3 separate regions of the Homo sapiens genome follow, and regions 1 and 2 are each reported to be linked to region 3. The links are microRNA targets in miRTarBase. Many come from high-throughput screens and were not tested one by one. Region 3 holds a microRNA gene; each other region holds the end of a gene's coding sequence.
The links. The annotated mature microRNA hsa-miR-4268 reads GGCUCCUCCUCUCAGGAUGUG and lies in region 3 at 5,063-5,083, shown strand. An mRNA with a match to its seed (bases 2 to 7 or 8) in the 3' UTR can be bound and repressed. Matches are read on the target gene's strand: a 7mer-m8 pairs with bases 2 to 8, a 7mer-A1 pairs with bases 2 to 7 and ends in A, and an 8mer does both.

Region 1 (10,288 bases), not on the chromosome of region 3:
TCAGTGATCTGCTTTGAGTCCTCCAAAACTACAAACTGCCCTAACCCATGCCGAGTGAGAGAGAAGGCATCTGGAACCTAGGTGTGAAACAAGGGAAACCCATGAAGTGACCCACTTTGCCTGGCACCAGTTGTAAACAGTACAGTGGATGAGACTGCAGGCTCTGGAACTAGCCTGCCTGAGTTTGTAACCTGACTCTGTCAGTTACTAGCTGTGTGATCTTAGGCAAATGACTTAAGCTCTCTGGGCGTCAATGTCCTTATCAGTAAAATGGGGATAATATAACCCACATCTTAGAGTTGTTTTATGAATTAAGGTTTTAGTACATGCCACAAATTTAGTGAGGCAGTGTCACTGTCTGGGGTAATTATCCGACATTTGTCATCTCACGCCAGGGAACTCGAGGACACAGACACACAAGAAGTGGGTTTAGGACCGGAGGTTTAATAGACAAAAGAAAGAGAAAGGAGAATAGCTCTCTCTCTTGCAGAGAGAGAAGGGTGCCCAAGTGGGACTTCCAGTCTGTGGCGAAGTGCATAGGGTTTTATAGACCGGCTTGAGGTGGCGGCGTCTGATACATAGGGCTCAAAGATTGGTTGAACCGGGTGTGACATTTACATAGGGCACGAAGAAGCTGGCCACCCCATCCTAATCTTTTCATTATGCAAACGGATTTTCTACCTGGCGGGCACCATCTTGTTTCCTCCTTACTGTTCATGTGGTTGACAAAGAAAAGGGAAGATGCAGCCACCATGTTGAACATGCCTAGCCCCCAGGCAGCCTCTTCCTATTGGCACAGCTGCCAGTATGCACCCATGCAAGCTTCCAGCTTGCTTATCTATGTCTGCAGCTCAATTTTACAGGCTGCTCATTTGCTCAAAGAAATGATTTGGGGGTTGCTTTTTATTAAAAGGAAAACCTTACCGAGGACTTCTTTACCCTCACTCTCTGCCTAAATAATTCATTTTTAACCAGTATATCATTAGCACAGTTCCTAGCACATAGCACTTAATACTTATTTTAGGGTCAACTGTGGCCATTTAAATTATCACGAGCTGGTGAGCCTCATTCTTCCACTCTATATTTTCTTCCTTGTCTTCCAGGAAGCTTCTGGAAAAAATTAGGCTAGATCTTAAAGAAACAAGTCTCAATCTTAAAGAAACTTGGCTGTTAGAAAGCAAGAGTTTTAATAATAAATATAAAATTGAATGCACCTCCTTTTGTTCCTTCCCTATAAAAGTGCTTTTCCTTTTTCTTCCTTCCATTGACCCAGCCCAGCCTTCCCAAACTATACATCCTTCTTCTGCTCATTGCTCTCATATCAGTGGTTACATAAAGAACAGAAAACACGGCAAATGCAGAGAAAAGTTATTGAATTCATTTTAGGCACACCAAAAACTTGTTGTATTAGTTTAAAATGGGTTTATAATTCTAAACCATTTTATATCATTCTACCTCTTATAGCAGTTTTCTTATTAGAGACTGATATAAGTAATGTTTTTAAGAGGACGTCCCATCATCAATAAGTTTGTGAAATTCTGCATAAAGTAGGGTAGATGAGTTACCTTAATATTAACGTGGATGATGCGTGTTCATGGGTGAGAAGTCATGAGTAGGATTCCCCGTCTTTTGACTCTGCCTCCCACTTTGTAAAGGATCTCATAGCGTTAGCACTCCAGAGAGAACACTTTGGGAAATGTCTTATAGGAAAAAGGAAAATATTTCCAGGTTTTGGAAGAATTGTTGGTGAACAGATTAAAGGAAAACCTAATACTGTATGAGTAAGTTGTTATGTATAAGAAAGAGAAAAGATTGTTTTTCTCTTTAAAGAAGTAGCAAACAGTAGGTGTTTTCCATGTCTCCAAAGAAATACAATGAATTTAAAATGCTTTAGGAAAATGAACTGAATGCTCTTCTGCTCACTCTACCCCACACAAAATGCTCATGAGATATCTATTTAGCATCTTCCCAAAGGAGAGACTTCCCGAGTGTGTCCAAGACTGGGCCATTATTGGAGAGTGATGAAGTGATGATCCTTTAATACTATTCTCTGCTCCATGAATATTTCCAGATACTGACCTTGGTGATAACCTGCTCTTACCTAGACTTCCCATTTTTCCTACTCAAGAAAATTGAAAATGTAATAATATTAACTTTTCTCTTTCTCTCTCCCGCTCCTCTCCCCTTTCCTTCTCCATTTCCCCATCCTGTGTCTTTTCCCTTGTCCTCCAGGAACCTTCTGCATCATTTCACTGTGCACCTGTGTGGCCGGGATCAACTTTGAGCTGTCACGCTACCCACGCTACCTGTACGGACTCCCTGATGACATCAGCCATGGCTATGGCTGGTCCATGTTCTGTGCATGGGGGGGCCTGGGCCTCACACTCATCTCGGGATTCTTCTGTACCTTAGCCCCTTCTGTTCAACCTGTCCCGAGGACCAACTACCCTAAATCCAGACCCGAGAATGGGACAGTGTGCTAAAAAACAAACCCATACATACATATATATATATAAATATATATATATAATATACATATATAAAACAAAACAAAACTAAATCAAGACGATGCCAGTGCCAAGGTAGAGTTGAGTTGGCTCAGGCACCTGCATCTCGCCGGACTTTGTGTTGCCTCATCTCTGAGATGGGGAAAGTTTTTCCATCCTGTGGCTCTTCCATCAGTTCTTGACTTTTGGCTTCATGGTCTCTTGAAGACAGAGCAAACACCACCACTTGCGACCGCGTCTTGATCCCCATCACTGGCGAGGATGGGGTGGTGAAGGGACAGTGGAAGGGGTCTGAGGCAGCACAGATGTAGAGAAGGAAGTGCCACCCACTGGGTCAACGGGAGAGGACGCCACCCCTAACCAGTCATATCACAGGGTAACAAAGCCCTCAGTTCCTAGAATGTAACCAAATTATTGAGGCCATTTTCAGAATCACTTCTTCTCCTGCTCTTCCTGTTCGGACTTCCTTCCCAGCCCACCAGCAACACACAAGGAGTGGAAGAGAAAACAAACTGAGAAGGACGTTTTCTCTTTGCTGCCAAACTTTTGGACCATGTTTCATAGGTGGGAAGGGAAGAGAACATGCTGAGAGGCAAGATCTGCATCAATGAAAGGACGCTTCGGTGGATGCTCAGACAACCCAGTCTTACCTTCCAGCTGCCTTACACCCAGTGAAACAAGAGGCCACCCTGTCCCCAGCCGCACCTGCACTCCCTGGGCAGACTGGAGCCTTGGAGTCATGCTGTGATGTGTGTGTGTGGGTGTGCGTGCATGTGTACTTTGGGCGGTTTCCTTTTTTTCTTTTCTACCTTTTAAATGGAAATACTGCATTATGACTGTTGTCTCTCTTATCACTGTAGTGGTTTCATGGCCCCAGATAGAGGCCCAGAGACCTAGAAATTGTCATGAGGGACAGGCCTATAAGGGTGCCAATTCTGCAGCTACAGATCCCTGGAGTGGTGTGTGTGTGCGTGTGTGTGTGTGTGTGTGTGTGTGTGTGTGTGTGTGGTGGATGTTTCTTGAGCGTGGGGTTTTATTGTTTGTGTTGTGTTTTTTTAAATTGTTTCTGGTATAGCTGAAATTTCCAGAGGGCAGAACCAAGAACAAAGCCACTGGGCCAGAGGACCCCCGTGGTTCTCCACATTACAGCTCTGGGACTCTGCACGATTTAGTCCTCTAATTTTGGAAGTTCAAGACACAGCTGGGCACATAAGCCATGAGAGAAGAGGGGGAACACACAGTTCAGGAGAGAGAAGAAATGTTGCTCTGGTTGCTGTTGTACAAGAACATAAACCAACAAGACCTTCACTCCCCATTATAGAAGCTGTCCTTTGTCACTGGACATCTCCCCTTTCCCTAGGGGTGACCTCTGTACAAACGAAAGGAAGTGGGTCACATGCAGAGAGAGCACCTCCATTTCCCATGGGCTCAAGTTTGTATGATATTGTGTAAATTAATGCAGAACTCTTGACTCTTTCCATCCTCTTCCTTTCCCTCTTGATATTCAAGGCCATGAATCCCAAAATAACAGTCTTAGTGGCTAGCACCCAAACAGAGGTGGAATAAATCCACCCCAGTGTCTCGGGCTCATTTGAGCAAATTAGCACTGCAGGTGCTGGCAAGCAAAGTCAGCCAGAGAGTTGTGAACGCTGTAGGGGTGGGAGTCTGCTGGAGTGGGCTGGAGCCGCTCACAGTCATCTCAGTGAGCCTGCTGGTGCCCAGCAGCCCTGGGGAGGCCAGGTGAGAATCCCTGAGCTGGTGTAGCCATGGTCAACTGTGTAGCAGAGAATCCCCTTGTTTCATAAACAAATATGCTTTGGGAGCTTTGCCAGGCACTCAGCAGCCTTTCTTCCACTGCTGTGTAATCTGTTTCATTTACACGTCTTCCAACCCATCTTCCTACCACTCTCCTCCTTTTCTCACCTACTAACCACTTACCTTCTCTCTCTTCTATCTTCCACCCTCATCTGCTCCTTTGAACTGCGTGTATGTAATTCATATCTGGATATGATATGACATCTGATGTGCATGAATGGGGTTGAATGTGGATCTCTCTGTATGTGTATCTCTCTGGTGCATTTTGTGTACGTTTGTGTCAGTACACACCTGCACACAGGTGTGGGTGCCCTACTCAAGACTTCCTTACCGGGGACTCTGGTCAGCTTCTGCAAAAGGTCTCATGTGTGAGTTCCCTGTGTGTGGGTGTGCTGGGCGATAGGGTAAGGTGTGCAACGGGAAAAGTTGTTAGCTTCCAGTTGGGGTTCTAAGGATTATTTTTAAAACAAAGGATTTATTCTATGAGAAGGGAAATAATTTTCAGGAAAACCCAGTTTTTCAATTGGGCATTTTATTTCTAATTTTCTTTGAAAAGTTAGATTTCTCCCTTAAGGGGAAGGGCATACTTGGGCTTAAGGAAAAGTGAAGAAAAGTATCTCAGATTGAGAGGCCTTTTGTCTTCCTTCCAAGCGTCCTGAAGGGGCTCTGCCGAGGAAGGGACAGACAGGTTCACAAGCATCCATTTGGGGGAGAGGGCTTGTCTATGACCACACTGAAATTCCAGCTTTTTTCCAGTTGCAGGAGAGAGGGGAAAAATTCTAAATGGGGAAATTTGCTATGAACCATTTAAACTTTTTGTAAGTAATCATGTTTGAGGATGCTGGCTCACAGACCTATCATTATTTATATCCTCTTTTTAAAAAAAAATCCCATACTTTCAATGAATAGATTATCTGCTCTATCCAATTATTGTCTTTGTGACAGACATTTAGCAAAGCTTACTGCATCCCTTTGAAACCTTGAGAGTTCCTGAAATGTTAGAAAGCTCCCAGGAAAGACGTAAACAACCTGGGCTCAACTCACCAGCCCAGAGCAGGGGCTTTGAGTGACTTCTTTGATAGCAGGACCAGATAAATACGAACACACTTTGGGATCTGATCCTGCTGGGAAGCAAAAGACGCCCAGCCACATGACCAGGATAGAGGCCCCTTTCAGACGGCAAGTCCTGGCCAATGGGAGGACTTCTCAGGTGACCTTGATCCCTCTAGCATAAGGGCTTGACCACAGATTAAAACATGTGACTCCAACCAGTTACGGAAGCTTTCTGGCTGTGAGGTAGCTGAGGGAGATGAGGAGGAGGAAGAGAGGAGCCTTGACTTGTGAGGCTCTGTAGGTCAGACTCTGCTAACTCCAAATCAAAGTGGAACCCAACCTTATGAGGGCATTTAGGGTCAATGACCTCACTAAAGTCACCAGCCGCAACCCCAGGTCAAGTTCAAACTTCTTACTGGCATATGAACATGTATGTGCTTTGAGCTCCATGCAAGTCAACCTTGAGCCTGGGGCCCATTGCAACTTTTATTTCCTTCCCTACTCTACTACCTTGAGATTCAGGAAAGTGAGGTATTCTACCTAGAGAGAGGTCCCATATCTTTTTCTCCTTATTTTGGGAGTTACGGTTTCTTCTTCTGTTTCCGTTTCCTCTCTCTCTACTCACTCCTACTTTCTCCTGCATCAACTTTGGTCAATTAACATAGACAAGTGATTCATCTGTAGAGAGGCTCCTAGACTCCAAGCAGCCCCCTTCCTTGTTCATTGTGGCTGTAGGTTTTATAAGGAGGTCTGTGGCTCCCTGGCATCAAAATATGAAAAATAAAATCTGTGCCTGTTCCAGCTTCAATCCTCCTCCAAGCCTTAGCTTTTCAACAACCCTACCCTTTCAACTTCAGGGATCATGGAGTCACAGAGACTGGACAACTCCTCCAAATCTAGACAAAGACTTTCTTAAGCGCCCTGAGCCCAGGTGCATATCTTCCCATCAGGGATGAGTGGTCCCACCTAGCAATGCTTGCCTCTCCTGTGACAAGAGGGTAGGATATCCTAGGACTCTGAGACTGGGCCCTATATCTCAATATTCATCCACACTCATGATAAGATGCCGGAAATGAATGCACTGTGTGTAGCTGTCTTGATTTAGTGGGAGGATGTGCTGCTTAGGTCTCCAAAGATGCCCACCTGGGTCAAATTCAGAATAATGAACTCAGGTACATCACCCAGAGGCATTTAGAATGGACTCTCTCTTCACCTGGATTATGTGCTGAGTGTTAAGTGATTTTTCAAATATCTGGGGGAAGGAGTGGGAAGAGATACACTCTGGTCATCCTTTGGTGTGGTTTGTGGGGGATACTTGGTTGATTCTTGTAGTTAAAGTGAAGTTGCTTTTCTGAAAATGTTCCCTGTCTTCAGGGGACTTACCCATCCCAGGGGACACATCCATCCCAGGGGACACAGCCAGCCCTTTCCAGGGAAATACGATGTTTCTGAGTGAGAGGTGATTTCAGTGCAGATAGGAAGAGCTGGTGCACACCAGCAGGGTTGCCTTCCATGCCATCTTCCAGCTGGTGTGGGATAGACTAAGGGGGCAGATTTTTAAGAACCCCACCAGAGTTGACATACACACGTGATTCTCGTGTCTGTCTCTCAAAGCTCTCAATGTCTGGGGCTGTGTTTGCCCTCTTTTCATTGATGCTGCCATGATGCAAAATGTTTCTTAAACATTATTCCTGGTTCTTAGAATATGTGATTACTGAGTATTGGATTTCTTTCCTGAATAATAACTGCTCATTGTAGAAAATAAGAAAAATAAAATACAAAAAAGACTACAAGATTTTTCATAATCCAGTCACTCTGAGGCATCTACCGCGGGCCCAATCCAAATGGTCATGACCTCAAAACTTCCCCAATGAGTGCTTGTCTCTGGGTTGGCAGCTGGGGCCATGTGAGCAGTGTACACCACAGAACCGCACTGGTCTGCGTTGAGTTGACCCTGTGTTCCTGGCAGCAAGAGTGCAGGGCCCTGAGCCCCCAGAGATAGCAAAGAGGCCTAAAAGTTTAATGCCAGACCTTAGGGGCAGGATGGAGCAGGGCTAAAAGATGTCTCTTTGGGCCTGTCTGCCTGCTTTCCTTCCTTCCTTTTCTTTCCTTTTTTTTTTTGGTCAGTTGCCATCTCAATCTAATCATAGATGTAAGAATGCGGAAGCCAGAGTAACTCACTCATTAAGCTACACTTGTGTAACAGTTACTGTAAATTTCACTACAGCTCTGCACTGAAATGATTTGTGACTCTGGGCACTGTGTCTTCTCCATACTTGAACTTCCTCATCTACAAAATGAGGATAAGTGATAACACCTTACCTCATGGTATATTAAGGGTGACAAAGAAATTGCAAAGTGATTTGCAAACATGAAGTGTCATATGAGTTATGTATGTTCTAATTATCCCTCAGAAGACCCCCCGCTGGAATGGAATTCTCACATCAAGTGTCTGTGCCTCGCTGCTGAAGGATAACCCAGAGTGCAAGGTCATCTTTGTTGCTGAACAGGGCTGGACCTGTCGCACTTAAGCACACTTAAAGGATTCTATTCTTCATTCAGGTCCCCCAGAGAAATTGGCTCCTTATTTTTCTTTACCTATTCCTAGACTTCCTTTTGTCTAGAGCCAGTTTTGCAAAGGGCACTTTTATCCATCTCAGTTATTCCCAGAGGTGACAGAATGAGTAAACCATATGGGGCAAATAGCATATATGAGCTAAACCAGTTAACTGTTAACCAAGGCACATGGTCAATGCCTTAGTATTTTTTTTTTTAATTCTCCTAACGTTATTTCTAGCTGTACATTCCCAAAAGGAATGGGTGGAAGCAAATCAGATTCTGAAAGGTTTCAATGATCTTTCAAGTTTAGGATGAGACCAAGTCTCAAGGAGCTGGGATCTTCTTTCTCTTGTCAGTTGCTGAAGCCAGTAGCTTCGTCAAAAACATATGAATTCATATAAGGAAGCCCTTTAGATGGTACATTCACTAAGACGTGTCTGGGTGTGATCCTGTTTGGGAAAAACAGAATCCTAGGTTCTAAACAAGAAAAGAACGCCCTTCCCAAAGGGTCCGCACACTTTCTGCTTTGCAGCGGATCAAGTGTCCTTGTGAGGGTGAGACTTCCTTCAAGGGAAGGGAAGCCATTGCTCTCTCTGTAGATAGAGCCCAGCTGGTAACGGGGGAGCCACCCAACTGCAGGGGGGTGTATGTTCAGGTGTGAAAAACAGAAAACTGGGTCTGAACATGAAGAGTTGCACAGCAGTAGTTCGAAGAAGCTGGCATCTCTTTGGCAAACACCAACCTCAGCAAATGCAACTCCTACACTTCATTCCCAAGGACCAGGTGTTGCTCCTTAAGGAACTCTGTATCCCTCTCTCCTCTCCAGAACCCCATTCCTCCCACTGGCTGAGCTTTTCCTTTCCTTTCCGGGTCACCCATAGACCCTCTCCGTCTGTACCAGTGCGTCTGTGTTGTGAGCGTGACGAAGCCTTTCCTGTGAAGAGCTTTCATGAACTCATTCTCATACTCCTTCCCCATTTCCACCCATGGTGTGACTGTTTTGCTATTCAAGACTATCTGTAAAAATGTACAAATAAAAGTGAAAACTGAAAATAAAGGGGAGGGAGATTGAGATTAAACAAATGCAATGATGTAGCCCTTAGTTTTCTGAGGACTTCTGTGGACGGCCCTAAAATCCTGAGTTAGGGTGGGATATGAAGGGAGGGATACCATTGACACAGGAGGTTTTTTTCTGGTTGTTTCTCTCACAGTCATCAGTGTCTGCTTAGAACTCTCTGTTCTAAAGGTTTTTCCCTGTAAAGTAGAATGCACTTCCCCCAAAATAAAAGTAAATCAGCAATGTTTGAAGGGTCATGGCAAGGGTCATGACAAAGACCTGACTCTGGGGTGGCATGAGTGGCCCTGTCACCGGCTCACTCAGGGCCTTGGGGGAGTCTCATTACCTCACCTTGTCTCCACGTCTTCTCAGCCAAATGGGGATCAGGGGCTTCCAGGGCTCTGGGGGTGCGCAGTCCCCTTGTGTATTTTGCTGCTATTTCTAGAGAGACTTTGAGCCCTTGCTAGTGCGTGCTTACTGCATGGAGGTAAATTAGGAGATGTTTTCTCTCTGCTACTCCTGGCCTCTGCTTTCGCCCCTCAGAAAGTGACCTTGAGCTAGCAGCCAGTTTGCACTCAGAGTCCAGAGCCTTCTATCTACCGTTTCATTCTCAGATTCCTTTTCCCACCCACTTTGACGATCTCATTTTACTATCAGTCTCTACTGACTGAGCTTTGCTGCACTGGGCTGGGGTAGGAGAAAGAGCATCCAAGGAGATGATGTGTGAATTGCTTTGTAATTTATGACTCACCATATAAATGTGGCTTGCAGTGTCAGAAGCAGGGAGTCTGGCCAAGGGTTGCTACCAAATAAGACTGAAGATGGTGGAGGCAGTGGTGGCGTGGAGGCAGTAGGCAGAAGATGTGGGTTGGGAGCAGAGGTAAGATGAACGGAGCTTTGGGAAGGACAGATGGCAGAAGCACCAGAAAATCCTCAGCAAGGCAGCAGAGAAGGATCCTCAAAGCAGTAACCCTGAAGTAATAGGAAGTAGGAAAGAGGAGCAGGGATTAGGTAAATCTGCAGCATAAACAGCTGTCTCCCTGCAGGACTGAGAAGACCAGCTGCCCCAGAGAGGGGAGGCACGTCGAGCTTGGCCAGTGACCCAACCCATGATTAGAGGCACCTTCAATCCCAACTTTCCTCTCCTCTGCTGGGTCACAGTGATGGAACCAGCTTCAGGAAGGTAGTATAGACCAGCGTCATCCAATGGAACCATGATCCAAGCCACATATGCAATTTAAAATATTCTAGTAGCCACATTTTTTAAAGTCCAAAGAAACAGCTAAAATCAGTGAAA
Region 2 (9,252 bases), not on the chromosome of region 3:
GCACCTGCCACCACGCCTGGCTAATTTTTTGTATTTTTCACAGAGATGGGGTTTCGCTGTGTTAGCGAGGATGGTCTCGATCTCCTGACCTCGTGATCCGCCCACCTCGGCCTCCCAAAGTGCTGGGATTACAGGCGTGAGCCACCACGCCTAGCCCACGGATTTCTTTCTTTCTATTTTTATTAGAGACAGGGGGTCTCACTGTCATCCAGGCTGGAGTGCAGTGGCACAATCACTGCTCACTGTGGCCTCAGCCTCCGGGGCTCAAGTGATCCTCCTACTTCAGTCTCCTGTATAGCTGGGACTATAGCCACGCACCACCAGGCCCAGCTAATTTTTGTTTTCTTTTTCTTTTTTTGTTTTGAGAGACAGGGTCTCACTATGTTACCCATGCTGGTGTTGAATTCCTGGGCTTAAGCAATCCTCTCACTTTGAGACCATGGATTTCTAGTTCTGCAGCAACACTCCTTGCTTTTAACCAATCTCTCGTCAACTTTTTTTGCTCAAAAATACAAAAGCAGGCCAAATGCTGTGGCTCATGTCTGTAATACCAGTACTTTGGGAGGCTGAGTTGGGAGGATCACTTGAGCCCAGGAGTTCAAGACCTGCGTGGCAACATAGTGAGACCTCATCTCAGAAATAAAAAATTAGCCAGGCATGGTGGCATGCACATGTAGTCACAGCTACTTGGGAGGCTGAGGTGAGGTGGGAGGATTACTTGAGCACAGGAGGGCGAGGCTGCAGTGAGCTATGATTTTGTGCCACTGCACTCCAACCTGGGCAACATAGTGAGACCCTGTCTCAACAAAACAAAACAAATGCTTCTCAGTTTTATACTTTTCCTTTCTCCTTTTTAAAAAAGAGTATATATTTTCTTGAGACAGGATCTTGCTCTGTTGCCCAGGCTGGAGTGCAATGGCATGATCATAGCTCAGCAATGTTGAACTCCTGGGCTCCAGCAAACCTCCCAGTCAGCCGGGCGCAGTGGCTCATGCCCGTAATCCCAGCACCTTGGGAGGCCAGGGAGGGCGGATCACAAGGTCAGGAGATCAAGACCATCCTGGCTAACAAGGTGAAACCCCGTCTCTACTAAAAATACAAAAAATTAGCCGGGTGTGGTGGCGGGCACCTGTAGTCCCAGCTACTTGGGAGGCGGAGGCAGGAGAATGGCATGAACCTGGGAGGCGGAGCTTGCAGTGGGCCGAGATGGCGCCACTGCACTCCAGCCTGGGTGACAGAGCAAGACTCCGTCTCAAAAAAAAAAACAAAAAAAAAATCCCAGAGTCTCGCTGTCATCCAGGCTGGAGCACAGTGGCACAATCATGGCTCACTGCAGCCTCAACCTCGCAGAGCTAACTTTTTTATTTTTAATTTTTATAGAGAAAGGGTCTTGCTATGTTGCCCAGGCTCATCTCAAACTCCTGGCCTCAAGCAATCTTCCTGCCTCGGCCTCCCAAAGTGTTGTGATTACAAGTGTGAGCCACCGTGCCTGATCTAAAAAAAAAAAAGAGTCTTATTTGAAGGAGTAACACAGAGTACCAAAAATTAAAAGATAACTGGAATTAGGTTAGGTTGCCTTCAATCTTTATTATCTGAGCCAAGAGTAGGGTGACAACCATCCTCAAAGATGGTCTCCATTCCTGCCTCTTAACGTTATGTAGATCCCTCCCAACTAATAGAGCTAGCCAGTGCAACCAATAAGATTTATGAAAATGACTGAGTGTGACTTCTGGGATTTTCGCCTTGCTCTTTCTGGGATCATTCAGTCTGGAGAAAACCAGCCACCATGTTGTGAGGATACTCCAGCAGCCAGCCCTAGGGAGAGATCCATGGGGCCAAGAATTATTGGCCAGCATCAGCCTGCCAGGCATGGGAGTTTAAGTCACCTTGGAGGTGGGACCTCCAGCCTCAGTCAGGCTTTCAGATGACTCTAGTCCACATAGAGATCCTAAATGTAACCTCATGATATTCCAAGCTAGAACCACCCAGTGAAATCACCTATCCATTCCAAACATAAAGAAACTGTGTGAGACAATAAATGTTTCTATGACAAGTACAGTAGCATTTCAGACCTTTGTTTGAGGGCCTGATTCTGGATATTTCTGTGCTGTTTACCACTGCTCTCCTCTTCCCCTCTCAGTGCTAGAGATGCAGCTTCCTTTCCCACGTATAAATAAGGTAACAGGGTTCAAAAGCAGGGCGAGTTAATAAAAAGATTTATCAGTCACCTTTTATGTTTAATAATGCTAACATTTGCTTCGAGGCCTCTAGGACTTACCCTTAAAGCTATTAGTTGTCTGAAATGTGAATTAAAATGCCTTTGACTTTAGTGCCCTACTTCTTAAATAAGGGGAAGACTCACATTGTAAATTACTGTGGTTTTCAGTTTATCAAGATAAAGGAAAAACTAATCATTACTTTTTTAGCTTGGCTATCTCAGTGCCCACCCAAACCCAGAACTACAGCCTACAAGACCTAGAGCTGGAATTCAGGTTTGGTCATTAGTGACCTTGTATCTCAGTTTCCTCATCTATTAAAAAAAAGAGCTCCATTACTCAGCTACCCCACAGCACCCAACCATTCATCTTCTGGTTTCTTCAAGAGTCCTGTTTTTAAAAACCATGAAACTGTCTTCCAGTTCTTGGTAAGACTTGGTGAGAATTATATTCCAATCCCAGGGATGTCAGTAACAACCCCATAGTCTTTCCTCCTGAACTAGGAAAGCTACAGAAAGGCTCTGGCAGAGCTGCCCAACTTGGGCACTACTGATGTTTGACGCCAGATACTTCTTTGCGGTAGGTGTCATTGTGTATACCGTAGCAGGGCAGCATCCCAAACCTCCATCCACTAGATACCAGCAGCACTCCCACTCCCATATGTGACAACCAAAAATGTCTCCAGACATTGCCAGATGTCATCTGGGGCAGAATCACCCCTGGATGAGAACCCACTGGGCTGGGGGATGGTTGCTAGAAAAACTGGGGTTCTTGGAAAGCTCCTGACCTGGCAGCCAGGGTAGAGGGGACTGGCACTACCTTCTTGCCTATGCCAACATAAAGTGGTCTACAAAGGAGCCCCACAGACTCACGTTGCATTCTCAGTTCTCAAAATTCCAAGTAGAATGCAGGTTACCTGGCAACCACACACGCTCAAGCCTATAATACCCTCACCAAACAGGGAGGCCTAGTGTAAGTCTCCTGGCCGAGAAGCCTCATCAGTCACTGCCAAGGCAAACCCAGGAGGCCTTGGCAATTCACCCAGTGATGATTTACAGTCGCCCAAGCATATTGCGGGGGGCGGAGAGGGGCTCTCGGATCTGTCACCCACTCTCCCTTTCAAATCCCATTGGCCTCCCACTGGCCTCCCTGGCTGATCTTCTAACAAGCCAGGCAGTTCCTGCCCGTAAGCCTTTTACAGCAAAAGCTCCCTGGGCCAGATATCTTTATTCGCTCCCTCCATTTAGGTCTCTGCTCAAATGTCACCTCTTTACAGAAGGCTCCAACCACTCCACGTAGTGGAGCGACCCCCGCACGGTACTGACCACCCTAAAATATATCCTACACTCGCTTATTTGCCTATTAAGATCCTCGCCTCTAAGCTGCTTGAGGAATTCTTGTCTGTATTCCCAATACCCAGTCTGTACCGGACACGGTTCATTTGACAGACGCAGAGGGAATTAACATGGAACCTTGTCATTCCTTGCAGTTCAGCCCCTAGGGGCCCAAGGCTCCCCGCTCAGCCCAAACCCTTCCAATATTTACTTATCCCCCTAGGGCCTGGCGCCTTTCCCAGTTCTGAAATAGACAAAAGGGGGTGGTGGGTGGGATCGGGATGGGGGTGTAGAGCTGCGGCGTTTTTGCAGAGAAACTGCGCGGGGGAGGACGCGACAATGGCGACGGCAGCCGAGCCTGCTGCCTGCTCGCAAGGACCAAGGCCTGAGAAAGGGAAACCTAAGGCGTCGAGGTCCAGGAGCGCAGGCCAGGGACGGAGGTGGTGGGGGCGGAGACCTCGTGCGCTGAGGCCCGGACCCACGGACACAGGCGACAGAAGCCAAGACATCAGGCGGCCGGGAGCCGGGACGCCGGCTGCAGACACAGAGAGCTGAGGCAACGAGGCGTGAGGGCAGCGACCCTGAGGCGACGGGCCAGCGGCGCCATTTTGTGACCGCAGGGAAGGCAGTGACGGGGCCCCAGGGGAGGTGCGGGCAAGCCTGGTGCGGCATCCGCACGTCCCTGTCCCATCCCCCACGCAGAGCCCGACCCCACCCTGCCAGGCCCACCTGTGTAGCTCATGGTGGCGGGCAACACAACATCCGACGACGCCGGCTTCTGCTGCTCTGAACATCCGACGCTGCGATAGCTGCTGCTAACCACAGGGTCCCCTCCACACACACCCGAGCCCCGCCTCCCGACCGCATTGGCTCATACCGGCCTCGGCTTCACGTCTATTGGAAGGAACCGCTGTCTATCTCTATGCCTCCTCATATCAGTGGCTGGAAGCTGCTGGCAATCTCGTGAGAGCCCCGCCTTGTCCCCGCCTTCTGTTATTCTAAGGCCTCAGTGATTGGCCTACAGAAGCCGGCAGAGAGGCGGAGTCCTATAGAATTTGAGGGGGCGGAGCTGTGCACTACGGAAAGGCCCAAGGCCCAAGCATGGTCGGGCTGGAGGAGCGCCCGTACCCTGGAGACCCGCCAGAGGGAGTCGGGTCTACGGCTCAGGGCAGGGCTGGGATGCCAACTCCGCCACCGAGGTGCTGGGTAGGGGACCTAGCTAAGTCTCTCAAATTCTCTGGCCTTCGGCTCCAAAACAAGCATAGCAAAGCCATGTTGAGAAGAGAAAATTAAAACAGCACCAAACAAGATGCTGGACACACGTTTCAACATTACGTGACAAAGTGTGTGTAAAGAAATCATTCTGGTGCCAGTGCACTGAATAAATGTGATTAATCGTAACAAAACGATAATATATTTATATGGCATATGCTTATATGTGTAATAATTCCGTTTGTATTGTGTGTCATTCGAATGCTCCTTCAAACCTGCAAAAAGCTTTTAATCCTCACTTAAAACTGAAGCTTGGAACTCATGATTTGCTCAAGGTCCTTGACAGTTACGTGTTAAAATGGGAGCTTTGCTTCTAAAACCCTCCTGATTCACTCTGGGCTCGAGAGATCCTGCAATAGTGCAGCCGGGCACCAGTCATGTCCTCAGTCTGTTTCCTGGGCATATGGAAACCCTGCCAGGGACAACTCATAATTTCTAGAGATGACAGAGCTGCACCGAAGAGTACTTAACACGTGTGTTTGTGAAAACTCATTAAGCTGCGCAATTACGACTTCTACGCTTCGTGTGTTTTAAAACTTTTTTTAAGGTATGCTGTTTCTTTTTGATATTGTTGATTTCTTTAGGTGTAATAGTGGCATTTACAACGTTGAGAGAAACATACTGAAATACTAAGAAGTTAACTGATCTTATGGCCAGGATGTGCTTCACACAATTCAGACAGGTAGAGAGAGGAGGAGGAAGCAAGGAGCTATAAGATAAATCTCTGACAGCTGAAGACATTGGTCATGGGTTGGTGATGGATAGATGAGAGTCCATTTTACTGTTTGCTCTACTTTTGTATAGTTGGAATTCTCCATGATAAACTGTTTTAATAAAACTCCCCCCACCCAAATGAGGCTTCTGCAGAACTTGCTGCCATACGGAACAAAGCCACTTCTGATGTGTTAAGTGAGCAAACTCCAAACATGAAGCAGAGATCTGACGGATAAGCACTCTGGCTTCGGGGTTCATCTCCCCATCAGCCTCAGGGATGCCTGCCTGTCTTCCAAACCAAGGCAGGGCCCCAGGACACGTCTTCTGCGCCCTGCAGGTTCGTTCCTTCATCGCACTTGCCACAGTCATCATTGTACCGATTTGATTTCGTTCACATCCAACACCCTCAGAGACCACGGCTCAAAAGCTGAGACTTTGCTGCCTGAGGTGTATTGAAGTGGCTTGAGCAGAGAAGAGCAATGCTCAGAAAGTTTTAGGAAAACATCCCCCTGCAAGAACTGGAGGTGACTCTTCCAAGGACACACATGACCCTCACTTCACTGCATGATTGGTGGGGAGGAACTTGCCATATGACTTTATAAGCTCTTGTATCATTTGACTGTTTTTTGTCACATCTAGCCTATACCACTTTTATATTTCAAAAACTGACTTACGGGCCGGGCATAGTGGCTCACGCCTGTAATCCCAGCACTTTGGGAGGCTGATCACTTGAGCTCAGGAGTTCAAGACCAGCCCGGGCAACATGGTGAAACCCCCGTCTCTACAAAAATTACAGATATAAGCCAGGGGTGGTGGTGCATGCCTGTGATCCCAGCTACCTGGATGGCTGAGGCAGGAGAATCACTTGAACCCAGGAGGCAGAGACTGCAGCGAGCCGAGGTCCCTACACTGCACTCCAGCTTGGGCAACAAAATGAGACCCTGTCTCAAAAAATAAAATAAAAAAATAAAAACTGACTTATGAAAAGTTGAAAGAGGAAGAAACACCTTTGAGTCAGCTCACAAGATGCTCTCCCTGCTTCCTAAGTCCTGGATACATCCACCCACCCACAGCACAGGATGGAGAGAAGTGGTTGCGGCCTTCTGCCACCAGGCGAGATGTGCGTCCTGACCCCACAGGAGCAGACGTGTGGGCCAAGACCACCCTTGTGGGCGTTATTGCAGCCTGTTAATCCCTCCTTCCCAGGAAGGGGTATGGTGGGAGGGCCCAGAAAGCAGGGCTGGGGGTAGAGGTGGCCCCTTCTGTCCACACGCCATGAGGTCGTTCCCACTCTCCAGCACTTGACCGTTTAGTAAAAACGATGAGCTGAAAAACCACATGCAATAAACAAGAAGGAGCAGCCAACAAAATCTCTTAAAATCTCAGAAATGTTCAATAAACATTTGCAGAGCGAGAAAATAAATAACATCGCAAAGGAGCCAGTGGCTCCTCTTTTCCCCGCATGTTCCTTGGGTCAGGGGTGCATGTGTCTCACTAGAAGTCACATGTATTAAAAGCAGGTGAGTTCCAGCTCTCTACAACCCCACTGGCCCCCACCCAAATGCTCCCAACGGGTCCCTGACACCCTCGCTGGTAGCTCCTGCCTTTGATAAGCTCCTCTAGCCTCAACTGCTTCTTGATCCTGGCTCCCTTCCCAGACAGGCTGCCCAGAACCCTGGTTCATCTGCTCACTGGAGCCGCTTTGCCAGCCAGCCAGAGACCCCCTCCCAGCCATGGCCTAAAGAGCCAACAGCTGGGAACTTGGGCTCATCCCCAGCTGCGTCTGGTCGGCTTGGCGGCCAACTGGAAAACCCAGGGCCTCCATGGCGCTCTGGACAGAGGAGGCCCCGATCCCAGCCCCGGCTGCCAGCCAATGCCAGCCTGTCCACTTGACAGAAAAACACACGCTGGCCGCCTGCCCCAGGGTGTTTCCAGAAGAGAAATTTAATCTAATTTACATACTTCTAGGTACATCGATAACCAAAATGTGGCCACTGAAAAAAGTTAAAAGGTCAATCAGCTCCTGGCTTCTAGCTGGCCCAGGATTGCAAAATAAAAAGATCCACGTTCCTTATTCTCTACACAAAACGCGTTTTTAAAAAAGTGAAAGGTCTAGGGAGCTATACATAGAAAGCAACAGTGAAAAGGGAGAGGGAGCAGGAGTGGGGGAGGAGAGTCCCACCCCCCAACCCCACCCTCCAGGGCCCCAGAGCCCCTGAGGCTCTTTGGGGGGCCTTGACATGGCAGGAGGCAGCTGTCAGCTCTGAGCTCTTCCCAGCTGGGAAGGCCCCTCTCGGGGGCAGCCAACAAGGATTTCCGTGGCATTGTGGGCTCAGTGGGGGGCTCCCAGGCCCCAGCAGGCCCCACAGAGGGAGCGTGGCTTCCCCTGAGCAAGCACCGTGGCATGATGTGGTCGTTCAACCCAGGAACTGGGGGTCCGGGGCAGGTCCCGGGTCTCACGAGGTGCGTGTTGTGTGTGTTCGCATGTACATGTGTGTGAGAGGATATTCATGGGGGAGAGAGGGAACCAGAACAGGGGTCTTTGGGGTCTTTGCAAATGGCCACGGATGGCAGACATCGCCCTGCCTGGCTGCTAGACGGGGGAGTGCTGTCCTCCCCTGTGACCAGACCGGCTGCCATCAGAGACCTGGCTGCTGCCCCTGCTGGACCAGGTGGGCATGGGCTGAAGGAAGACACCCTGTGGCCCCAGAGTCCTCGGGCTGGGGGAAGGGCAGCTAGCTGGCTCCCGGCGCCCTGGCTGTAGTGTGCCCGGCCCCCAAGGGGCGCCGGTTTGAGGTTTTGGCTTGCTCCTTTGGAAACGGAAAGAAAGAGGAAGAGGGACAAGGACACAGAGGAGGAAGAAGAGGAGACAGAGGTGGCACGAGAGGGGATCTGGAATGCTTTTGTGTTAGGGAGCCTCTGCCGCCGCTGTCTGTGCCTGCGGGGCCTGGGACTCCTCAGGTGGGGGGTCCGCTTTGGAGAAGTTCATCTCCAGGATGTGCCGCTGTAAGTGCCGCACCCACTCTTCCTGGATGGAGAGGGGGCCCTGGAATTCCACCTCACAGAACCTGCATGGGGGAACAGAGAGAGGGAGTGGCCAGTGCTGTGAGGAGAGGCGGAAGCATAGCCTTGCCAGCATCCCTGGGCACACCTGCTGCTACTCAGTGTGGACAGAGCCAGCCCAGGAGGCGGGGGAAGAGGGACCCAGAAGTCAGGCGTTTCCCATGGACAGCCACCTCCACTCACCATGGGGTCATGGCAGGGTCTCACAGAGACCCCTGCCTCTGTGCTCAGAAGTCACTGGTGCCAGGTAAGGGCTACTGGCTTCCAGGTACCCCTGCCATCTGGCAGATACATAGAATCTGAGACAGTAGAGGGCACAGAGAAGCAAATCCTACCCAACGCACCAAGCCCCCCACCTCCTCCTGTCTTCCTGGCACCTAAAAAGGCCTCACAGCACAGAGGCCTGGAGCCCAAGCTCCATGGCTCAAGACGTGGCTTTGACTCTGACTTCTGACTTGGCCTGTATGGCCTCAGGCAAGTCACCTCACGTCTCAGAGTCCCAGTTCGCTGCTCTTCAATGTACTTGTGGACTTTGGTAAGAATTAACTAAGATCTACTTTTTTCTTGAGCCAGACACTAGTTGAGTGCTTACTTACCATGTGCCAGGCAGTTCTGAGTGCTTTATAAATATTAAATTCACTTACTCCTCGTAA
Region 3 (10,288 bases):
ACCTCACACACATCCTCCTACACAGAAATCCTATGAGACTGGCACCATTATCATCCATCTTTATTTTGCAAATGAGGAGCTAGAGGTTTCACTGTGCTAAGCAATTGTGAAGGTCACTCACCTAGAGGTCGTAGGGTCTGAGGTCTGCTTGTTCCTAAAGGAGATGCCGTCTCAGATTGTAACACTATCAAGTGCTATTACATTTATTAAAGGACTTTGTAAACTGAGAGATGCAATGCAAATCTAAGAGACTGTGACCTGAGAGTTATTTCACAACAGCTACAAATTCAGTAAGAGTAGTTCACTCAATTTCAGAAGTTCCCTTTTGACAGTCCTCTCTCTAGTTGATGTTAAGTGTTGCTAATATAGTAGATACTGACTAAACTATACAAGAAGTCAGATGTGCCTTCAGTAGCAGCTCCATGTTTATGAACTGAAATTTTAAAAAACTGGCCCAAGAGCATTGCCCGGTAGACCCTTGATCTTATGGCGGGCCTGGCTTGGTGGGATGAGGACACCCGACCTGAAGTGTAGTCTCTGCCCGACCATTATGTACAAGATTTTGCACTGGACCAGCACTCTGGGACCTTCTTGGGATAGGGACCCTGCTTTAATTATTCATGTATCTCTAGGGCCTATCAGAGTACCTGTCACATAGCGGACCCTTAATACATGTTTGCTTGTTGAATGAATGAGCACATGGAGAAATTCTGATTATAAAGGAGGCATTGTGTGGAATGGAAAACACTGGACTAGCATTCTGAAGACCTGTGTTCAAGTTCTGGCTCCGCTAATTAACCAGCTCAGTGCCTCTGCAAGTCAGTGAACTTCCTCTGAGTCTATGTCCTCATCTATCAAAATGGGGTAAAAATTTTTCTCTATCCATCTCATAGAGATGCTGTATCAAATGAAGGAATATTTGCAGATGAACTTAGTTTAAGTCTATTCAAACATAAGTTACACCATTTTATTATATAGAGTCAAGAAACTGCAGCATGTCACAACCAAAGCCATTGCTTTTTGCAAATGGGAAATCTGATGCCCAAAGAGAAGAAGAGCAGATCCCAGGCCTTTTGCTCACTGCTCTGCCTTACTAATGCCATATTGGCTAACCTCATGAGTGCCCTTGCCAGAGCTGGTAGGTCTTCTTCAGGCTAAACCCAAGGCACCCACTTCACTGGGTGGCCCATAAGCTTTTACAAGATATCTGGGGATACACTTCAGAAGCAGATTGGGCATAAGGCTCTTCATGTGTGACTGCCTCTGTCTTCTGAAGGTTTTTGGGGATGTTGAATGGAGTTTTTTCCAGAATATGGGAAATACGGTTGAAGCCCAGCCATTCAGTTTTCCAGTATGCTTGGGTAGCTCCACAATCTGGCCCCAGTTTCTTTCCAAAGTGTCAGTCTTCATCACTCCCCAGTTCATTCCTCTGTCCCTACCAGGCTGGCTCCTCACCAGTCTCTAATCTGCTTCAGTCAGTCTCTGTGACCCCAGCCATATAATTCTTCCCTTTTTCCCCTTCCACCCTCCTTGGAGTCCAGCCCACCCCTTCTCCATCCAAATACCACATATTCTTGATAAAGAGCTCAAGTCCCATCATGCCAAGATGTCATCCATGACTATCCCAGTTCATAGGGTCCTTCTATCCAGCCAGCCTGCACATTAACATCTGCTGTGGCATGAGTTGTGTCTCCCAAGAAGATATGCTGAAGTCCTAAACCCCGTACCTATGAATGTGATCTTAGTTGGAAATAGGGTCTCTGCAGATATAATTAAGATGAAGTCATACTGGATCAGAGTGGGCCCTAAATCCAAAAACGTGTGTCCCTCTATGGAGAGAGATTTGAAGACACAGAGAAAATTGGAGTTATGCTGGCATAAGCCAAGGAACACCGAGGATTGCTGGAAACTACCAGAAGCCAGAAAAGGCAAGGAAAGATTCTTCCCTAGAGCCTTTAGAGAGAATCTGGCCCTGCTGACACTTTGAATTGGGACTTCCAACCTCCAAAACTATGAGAGAATAAATTTCCATTGTTTAAGCACCCAGTTTGGGGTACTTTGTTATACCAGCCCTAGGAGACCAGTACAACATTTTGGGTCACTGGTTGGGCTTATAGGCACCTGACTCACCATATACTACTGGTCACCTTCTCATGAGAATATTATAGGTCAATGAACTGCCTGAGGATAGAAACTGTCCGCCAAACTTCCTTGCAGCCTCCCTAGAGCCTGGTGCCTAGTGACTTGATTGATTTAACCTCAAGCATGAGGATTCAGCTTCAACATTCCATCAGGAATGGGGCTGCTTTAGAAAAGGCACTTACTTTCTTCTCAGACTCAACAAGTAATGCCAAATTAAAAGTAATGGCAAAAGTCACAATTACTTTTGTGCCAACCTAAAAGCAACATGATGAAGTAGAATGTGGGTGACTAATTCTCAGAGAACACATCTCCACTTCTTAGCTGCAATCCAGTAGCCCCAATGCATTGAAACAAGCTTACCCGAAACTTTTCCTTATACCCTACTGCCACCAAACCCTACACCAAATGCAGTCCAAACACCAATCCTTCACTCTCTGTCCCCAGCAGGGCTGGCCTGTCCAACATCCTGACCTTCCAACACTGCCCCCACCTCCACAGACATATTCTCACCCACAGTGACTTGACTCTGTATTTTGGTCCCTATCTCAGTCTTCATAATCAAATTCTATGTGAAGTTAACCTTTGAAGTTCACAGCCCCATCATAACTAGACAGAGAGATGAGCCCACATGAAACAGTGCTGGCCACTGGGCCAGTCATCCCACTCCACGCACTTGGGCCCCAGAGTGAGCATGAGATTGGAAAGGAGAGCCTGCACTGCCCTCACCAGGCCTTAATTTGATCAGGCCTCTGATGGTGTCAGCATCTCACCGCACTGAATGTGCATCTAGTGTTTAAAGACCTGCATTTTTCATACAGTGTGGCCTTAAAGTCAAGGTATGGACTTCACCTGGTACAAGAGCCATGAAGTGGTAATAAGGGAAACTTCTATAAGTGATCTTCCCTTGACCTCTGAGTAGCATGAGACTTATAGGGATTGCTTCTTCCTTTTGCTTCCCCTGCCCTCATCTTCTCCTTCACCTGGGTCATGCCTTGTCCTCCCTCTCTGTGAATCTAAATCCTACCCAAACTTCAGTGTCCAACTCAAATATGGTCTTCTCCAATAAACTTTCTTTCATTCCCCAAGTAATGACTCCAGACTCTTAACTCCCATTAAAACCTCTCCTTTGGCATATAGTTAGAATATCTTATTTCATGGATATTTGAATATGTCTTTTATCTACTATTTAATCACAGACTGGAAGGCTTTTGAGAGCAAAGATCTTATCTTATAATCTTTCCCCTTCAAGGTTTCGGGAATTAAATGAGAAAATGTAATCCAATGGCCTCTGTGATGTCTGGCATATAGTATATTCTCAATAAATGTCAATTCCTTTCCCTTTTACACATCTTTGCATCCCCAAGAGCATTTTGCAAAGTCTTTTGAATCATCTAGCTGCCTAATAAATGTTAAATATATGAATCAATGCACAGAAATGGTAATATTTCAACTGTTTTCCTAAGGTCAATGAGTACAGTTCAGACATTTCCACTTTTCTCCCACAACTCCTGAATTTGTGGGCTCATAAAGATTATTTCTGTTCCACACCTCTGAAGCTGAAAGCAATATTATGAGGCAGGAGGTAAGCAGTGGAAGGCTGACAGCGTCACCCAGCAGTGAGTCCAGAAGCAATCATCTAGGGCCTCCAGAACTGGCTGGACAAAATCAGGCAGCAGCCCAACCAACCTTTAAGCTATTTAACTAATTTAGTCTTTGTAAAGAAATAGTGTGCAATTAATCCTTATTTTGCACTCATCTCATACTTTTTCATTAATTTCTAATATTTTCATGTTCTTAGGTAGGTGAGGCATCGTATATAGCACCACTTTTCTTAAGCAAATTTAAATCCTCAGAGGTGAAACCCAACCAGCATGCCAGTAAGTTCGAATAGAGTTGGCACCATTTGATGCTGTCAGTTATTAGGAGCTGAACAAATTCTAGATGTTCCTGAGATGAAGTGGCAGGGAACAGATACAAGAAGACTCCTCCTTCATCCCTACTCTTAACACCATGGGACCTATTTATGCATTCCTCTTGAAAGGGAGAATGAAGAGTCCAGAAACTCCACAGGCTGGCTGGTCACTCCAGAGTCTCTCAGCTAAACCTTTGGATGGAGCAGGCCTTGCCCTCAGCATTGGGTTACCTTTGTTTATGTTCACAGAAAGAAAAGCCAGCCCAGAGCCCGAGACCCCCCAGCAGAGGCCTGATTTCACACACATTTTCCCCAGATTCCTATTGGCTTGGCTGGAAACCACATATTAAAACCCACCAATCTTTCCACTTGAGCCTGATGAAAGCTTCACCAGAAACAGCTGCACTTCACATGTGGTTTAAGTTAATATCTTATCCCGACGGTTTAACTCTAACTGGCTGGGCTGCTTTTTAATATTCACAATCCTCTTTTGTTTCACATTAAGAATATGTCTTTCATTACTCGCCAGAGCTGGGGGACACAATGAAGCTGGTAGCACTTCATTTTTGAAATGTCTGGAATAATTGTTTGTATTGTGTGTTACTCAAGGACCACTCCAGGTTGGCTATCTGAGATGCATATGAAAGTGTTAAAAACCCTAACGTGAACGTTGCTAGACCTATGTGGAATGTTTTCCTATTAAAAAAGTAAAGCCACATACTAATGGCTCAGATTTAGTTTCTAAATCCCAGAGCTCGTTGAGTCAAGCAACATGATAAGTTCATTGCTTTGTTTCTTCCAACGGCTCTCTAAACCACCCCATCCCTTCAGCATATAGGAAAGTTTAATCAATATGTGGCTAATTTCACACACAGGCATGCCATACACATATGCACACTCTTGCTTTGTATCTGTACTGGACATGATTAACTTTCAAGTTCATAGAAATCGTGCAACTCTGGTTTCCCTGGCAAAATGCACATCAGGTTCTAGAGGTTTTGCCCTAGCGGCTCCTCCTCTCAGGATGTGATGTCACCTGGGGGCATCTTCACTGTGTGACATCATTTGTTATGCAATGGTGAGTTTGAGGTGCTGGGAATATTCTGCAGATTTCCACTTGTCTAGCACTTGTATAAAAAAGGTCAAGATTGGGAAGATTTCAACAAGCCCCTTTTGTACTCATTAGTCATTAAGATATGGCTAGACTTTTTGATGACTCTTGAATTTTTTTCCCTTATTTTATTTCTGTGTTTGTATGAAGTATTGTCATCATCCCTGTTTTATAGGAGAAGCTGAAGCACAGAAAAATTAAATAACAAGATAACATGGATAATAAGTTATTATAGCAGAGACTAGTTATCCCCAATATCGTTTTCCCATTCTTCTCCAGTCATAGAACTACAGAAATCAGAATTGTATTGATTACTATTGGCTGGGCATATAGCCACCCAAATAAAGATTATGAAGTAGGAAGAATTCTAAATGGTCCCCAAGATTCCTACCCCCTGGTGTATATAGCCTTTAAACCCCCTTTTCTTGAGTACAAGTAGGACTGGTAATAGGATGAAATGATTGCTCCTTTAGATTAGGCTGTATTATATGATAGCAGTAAAGGGATTTTACAGATGGAGCTAAGGTCCCACATCAGTTGTCTCTGAGTCAGTCAAAAGGGAGATGACTCTGGGTGGGCCTGGCCTAATCAGGTGAGCCCTTAAAAGAAACTGGGCCTTTGCTAAAGAGAAAGAGTCAGAGGAATGCTCTTGCTGGCCTTGAAGGTGCAATGCCTTATTGTGGAAAGGGCCACATGGCAGAGACTAGCAGCCAGCCTCTAGGAGCTGGGAACGGACTCACTGACAGCCAGCAAGGAAGTGGGACCTCAGTCCTGCGATTGCAAGGAACTAAATCCTGCCCATAACCAGTAACTTTGGACAAGCATCCTGAGTCTCAGATGGGATCACAGTCTTGGATGACACTTTGATTGCAGCCTGATGAGACCCTGAGCAAAGGACGAGCACTCCTGATCCCCAGAAACTGAGAGATAATAAAGTTGTGTCGTTTAAGCCACTGAGTCTGTGCTCATTTGTCATACAGCAATACAAAACTAATGCAGGTTACACTTCCCAAATGCCTTTGCAGTTGGTGTTGCCATGTGACTAAGTTCTGGCCAATAGGTTTTAGCTGCAGTGATGTGAGTAGCTTCCCTCTGTACCTTCCCTTCATCTCTCCCCTCTTCTTCTGGCAGGATTATGGATGTTGTGGAAAGCCACCTAAAGCACAGGGGTGAGAGAAACACCCTGAAGATGGTGAAGCAACAAGATAAGAGCCTGCATCCCTCAAATTTTAGGATTGCCATATCAGTCCTGAACTGCTTACACCCACACTGTTAAGTGATCATGAAATAAACACCCATCTTGCTTGGTGAAGGCATTCTTACCTGGTGTTTGTGCTACAGGGGTTGAACCTACCCCGACCTAACAGGCAGAGCTCAAAATGGACCCAGGTGGTGTGATCCCAGAGCCCATTTACTTAGCTCCTTCACCACCCTGCCTCCCAGGCACCATATTACATCACAGTAGAATTGGAATCTCACACTGTTAGAGCTTGATGAAATTGTACTGGTCAAGTCAGTCAAACCAGTCAAGCGGACAAGAAAGAGGGACTCAGATCACCTGGAATTATGGCAATGTCTTGCAAGGATACTTCTGAAAATCGGGTGTCACGGGAAGCTGAACTTTGCATCCCAGTTCTGAAACATACAGCAACCTCATGGAGACAGATGCATCACTCGGCATTTTGGGGCGGTAGCGAGTTCAGTGACCTGCCAGATTTCTTAGCATTAACTTGAAAGAGAAGACACTTATTTGATTTGATTTGATTTCTACTAGTCAAGTGGGCACCTGGATTAAGCAGACTCTCCCCCAGGCACCCCGGAGGCCTCTGACATCCCTTATGTCCAGCCCAGACATGGCCTTTCTGTGGCCTCAGCGTATCTGCCCAGTCCAATCGGCTATAGCCAGAATAAAAAGGTTGGTTTCCCTCCACCCATGAGCCATGCCATACATGACATGCATGTGAATAATGATCTGAGCTGTGTTATCTGGCAGAGGTGATGCTCACGGCTCTGCTCCATGTTCTGGGACATGACTGGACTCTCATTTTAGGGAGGAAGATCCAAGAGAGGGAAGGAGGCTTTCCCAGCTACTTTCCTGCTAACCAGGGCAGAGGCTGGTCTACATCCCCCTATCCAGGTGGCCCCTGCAGTCATGGCTTTTCTGCTTCTAGAAGCCATCCCTGAGGTCAGCTGAATTTAGACCTATGGTATCTCCAGTACAGCACTTTGTCATCTGTTTGTGATAATAGTTTTCCAATTCTTGTCACTTCCGCCAGAACATCATTGCAGAACTCAAAATACATTGCATCATACAAAATGAAGTGGAGAATTAAGGTAATTATCCAATTATTAAAAACCATTTCTTATTCGTTAGCTAAATAACTCTTCAAGTCTCCATTTTACATGTGTTCCTCTGATGTGAATTTGACCCTGGCCTATTTGTTTTTCAGTAAAGTCCAAAATCCAAAATAGCCCAACAGAAAGACCCCCTCCCAGTATTCCACAGCATCAGTAATAAAGCTCCTTATCAGATCTAATTTAAATCTTTCTTGAAACAACTTAAGTCCTTCTGCACCATCCTCTGCAAGTGCAGAACAGCCAGAGTGCAGGTTGCAGGATGTGGGGGGATTATTACAGTGAAATCGGCACACGGATCTCAAGATGAAAGTTTGCTGTTTCTCCAGACCGTCTAGGTGACTGCCTTTTGAAATTGCACACGGCTTATACTGCCATTCGTGTAGTTTAAGAAAAAAATTAAAGTATAAAAGGAAACCAGCAGTGTTTTAAGAGATTTCATTTCTGCTTGATGCTTGTACTCATTTGCAGGGAGGCAGGAGGAGCGCTTGTACTATATAGGGTCTCTGGAAACACTTAAAGTTCAGAAAGACCCACGACCCCAATCCAAGCTTCTAGACAGAAGAGAGAGGGTGCAAAGGTAAAACCCTCCCCTTACTTTATTCCACATCACATTGGGGTAAGTGGTTTGCCCCTCGATGTCCACCCTTTACCATTCTGTGCCTCAGAGGCTGACACACCCCCACAGCATCCAGATTCCCCTGCCCTCTGGCTTCTGACTGAGATCGACCGAGAGGCAGTGTGATCATTAATTTTAACGTGTCAGCTTGGTTGGACATGGTACACAAATACACGGTCGAACATTATTCTAGATGTTTCTATGAAGGTGTTTTGTGGATGAGAATAACATTTAAATCAGTGGACTTGAAGCAGAATACCCTACATAAGGTGGGTGGGCTTTATCCAATGAAGGTGGAAGGCCTTCATAGAACAAAGACTGACCTCCCCCTGAGTGAGAAGGAATTCTGCCAGCAGACAGCCTTTGAACTCCCTGAGTCTCCAGCCTCACAGCCTACCCCATCAGTCTTCGGACTCACCACGCCTCCACAATCACATGAGACAGCTCCTTAAATAAACGAATGAATCTCTCTCTTTTTCTCTCTCTGTCTCTCTCTCTCTGTCCCTCTGTCTGTCACACACACACACACACACACACACACACCAGTGGTTCTGCTTCTCTGGAGAACCCTGACTAGTACAGGCAGCAACGCTAGGAAATCAGACCAGATGGAGGAAGGGAAGCAAGTATTTATCCCCTAGCTCCTCCCCTGTGGGGTCTGCACACAGCCCCAGCCATCTCAGGGTAGGGGAGCCATGCCCCCCCCTCACACCCTCAGGCCTGCAGGTGATACCTGCACTCTCTTTTCTTAAATCCAAGGACTGCACTAACCTTGAACAATTTCCCCACACCATGCTCACTCCTTTACAAATGATCCTCTAATTAACTGCTCAATTTATCCTACTATGAGCCTGCTGAAACCTTGACTAACACCAGTGTCACCAGAATGTGGGGGCCATGGCAAACTTGATGTGGCATTCAGGGCCTTCCTTGTCTGACCTCAACCTCCCCTTCGAGGGTCTTTTTCTGCCATGTTCATTCACTCCAAAGACACACAAAAACACACAGTAACATACTCAGTATTGTCACCAGACTGCGGCTCTCCCCCACATAGCAGCCCCACTCCAACACCTCTGTCACTCTCTCTGGATGTCAGCACCCCACAGTGTCCTATGCGCATTACCAAACAACCACACACTAGTAACTTATAAATGAATAAGAGGGCGGGGGGGGTGGCTCACACCTGTAATCCCAGCACTTTGGGAAGCCAAGGCGGGTGGATCACCTGAGGTCAGAAGTTCGAGACCAGCCTGACCAACATGGTGAAACCCTGTCTCTACTAAAAATACAAAAATTAGCCAGGCATGGTGGTGGGCACCTGTAATCCCAGCTACTTGGGAGGCTGAGGCAGGATAATTCCTTTAACCCAGGAGGCAGGGGTTGCAGTAAGCTGAGATTGCACCACTGCGCTCCAGCCTGGGCAACAGAGCGAGACTCTGTCTCAAAAAAAACAAAAAAAAGAAAGAAAGAAAATGAATAAGAGCTGGGAACCACTGCCCGTTGTGGCTATTTGCTACTTCATCACATCCCCCAACTTTGGTTCTGCAATCATGTATCCTCCATCTCGTCAACCAGTTAGTGGGGTCGGTTGGTTTGTTTGTTGTTGTCTTGTTCAACCCAAGTCCCCTTTGCCCCCTGTAGTCATATTTGTAGCCAAGTTGTTAGGGTATTTAGCAAGGTATGGGAATCTGCTGGAGTAAGCGATTGCTTCATTTTGTTTTCACACCACGTGCTCAAGAATGTCTGAGCAGGTATGACAGTTTTTGTTTTGTTTTTTGTGTGTTTAAATTGCTTAAGATGCTCCAAAGGCTTTGTTTTAAAAATAAATAATAAATATCACAGGGAAAAATGAAGAACTGTATAGGTTTTAGTAAAAATCATGCTTATGTCTTCTTTTCTTCTGGATTTTCCTACATTGTGTTAAAAATAGGAACACACGTTTTTCAGCCTGACACTGTGTCTACCACAGAAATAACGAAAAGCAACGAAAAATGGAAATGAGCAACATGACAAAACCAGTTCCCCTGAGGTTTCAGCTAAAAGAGAAAAAAGGAACAAATAGAACCAAGGCTGTAGCAGCACCTACAATTAGCATAAGCTGCGTCAATGAGGTGTCAAGGTTGCAGAATTAATAAGCCCCAGGTCAGCC

Region 1: the mRNA of TMEM178B is a reported target of hsa-miR-4268. Seed matches in the 3' UTR shown: 7mer-m8 at 5,648-5,654 and 8mer at 9,987-9,994.
Region 2: the mRNA of WIZ is a reported target of hsa-miR-4268. Seed matches in the 3' UTR shown: 7mer-A1 at 8,342-8,348, 7mer-m8 at 7,150-7,156 and 7mer-m8 at 6,982-6,988.

The regions. Positions count from the first base shown.
Region 1 is chr7:141,468,304-141,478,591 of GRCh38, forward strand. It overlaps TMEM178B (transmembrane protein 178B), which reads left to right. Exons shown (of 4, transcript NM_001195278.2): 4 at 2,233-10,288. The coding sequence ends at 2,483. Among named protein-coding and RNA genes, the nearest start is that of AGK-DT, 78 kb to the right of the region's middle.
Region 2 is chr19:15,414,632-15,423,883 of GRCh38, forward strand. It overlaps WIZ (WIZ zinc finger), which reads right to left. Exons shown (of 13, transcript NM_001371589.1): 13 at 5,347-8,604. The coding sequence ends at 8,445. It overlaps AKAP8L (A-kinase anchoring protein 8 like), which reads right to left and starts at 4,357. Exons shown (of 14, transcript NM_014371.4): 1 at 4,280-4,357. The coding sequence starts at 4,292. RefSeq lists an enhancer at 1-408.
Region 3 is chr2:219,901,307-219,911,594 of GRCh38, reverse strand. MIR4268 (microRNA 4268) reads left to right here and starts at 5,030; the gene lies at 5,030-5,093. It overlaps LINC01803 (long intergenic non-protein coding RNA 1803), which reads left to right and starts at 6,706. Exons shown (of 3, transcript NR_146975.1): 1 at 6,706-7,080; 2 at 7,216-7,350; 3 at 7,442-7,544. It overlaps LOC105373890 (a long non-coding RNA gene), which reads right to left and starts at 6,584. Exons shown (of 3, transcript XR_923927.3): 1 at 6,489-6,584. RefSeq lists an enhancer at 3,037-5,231.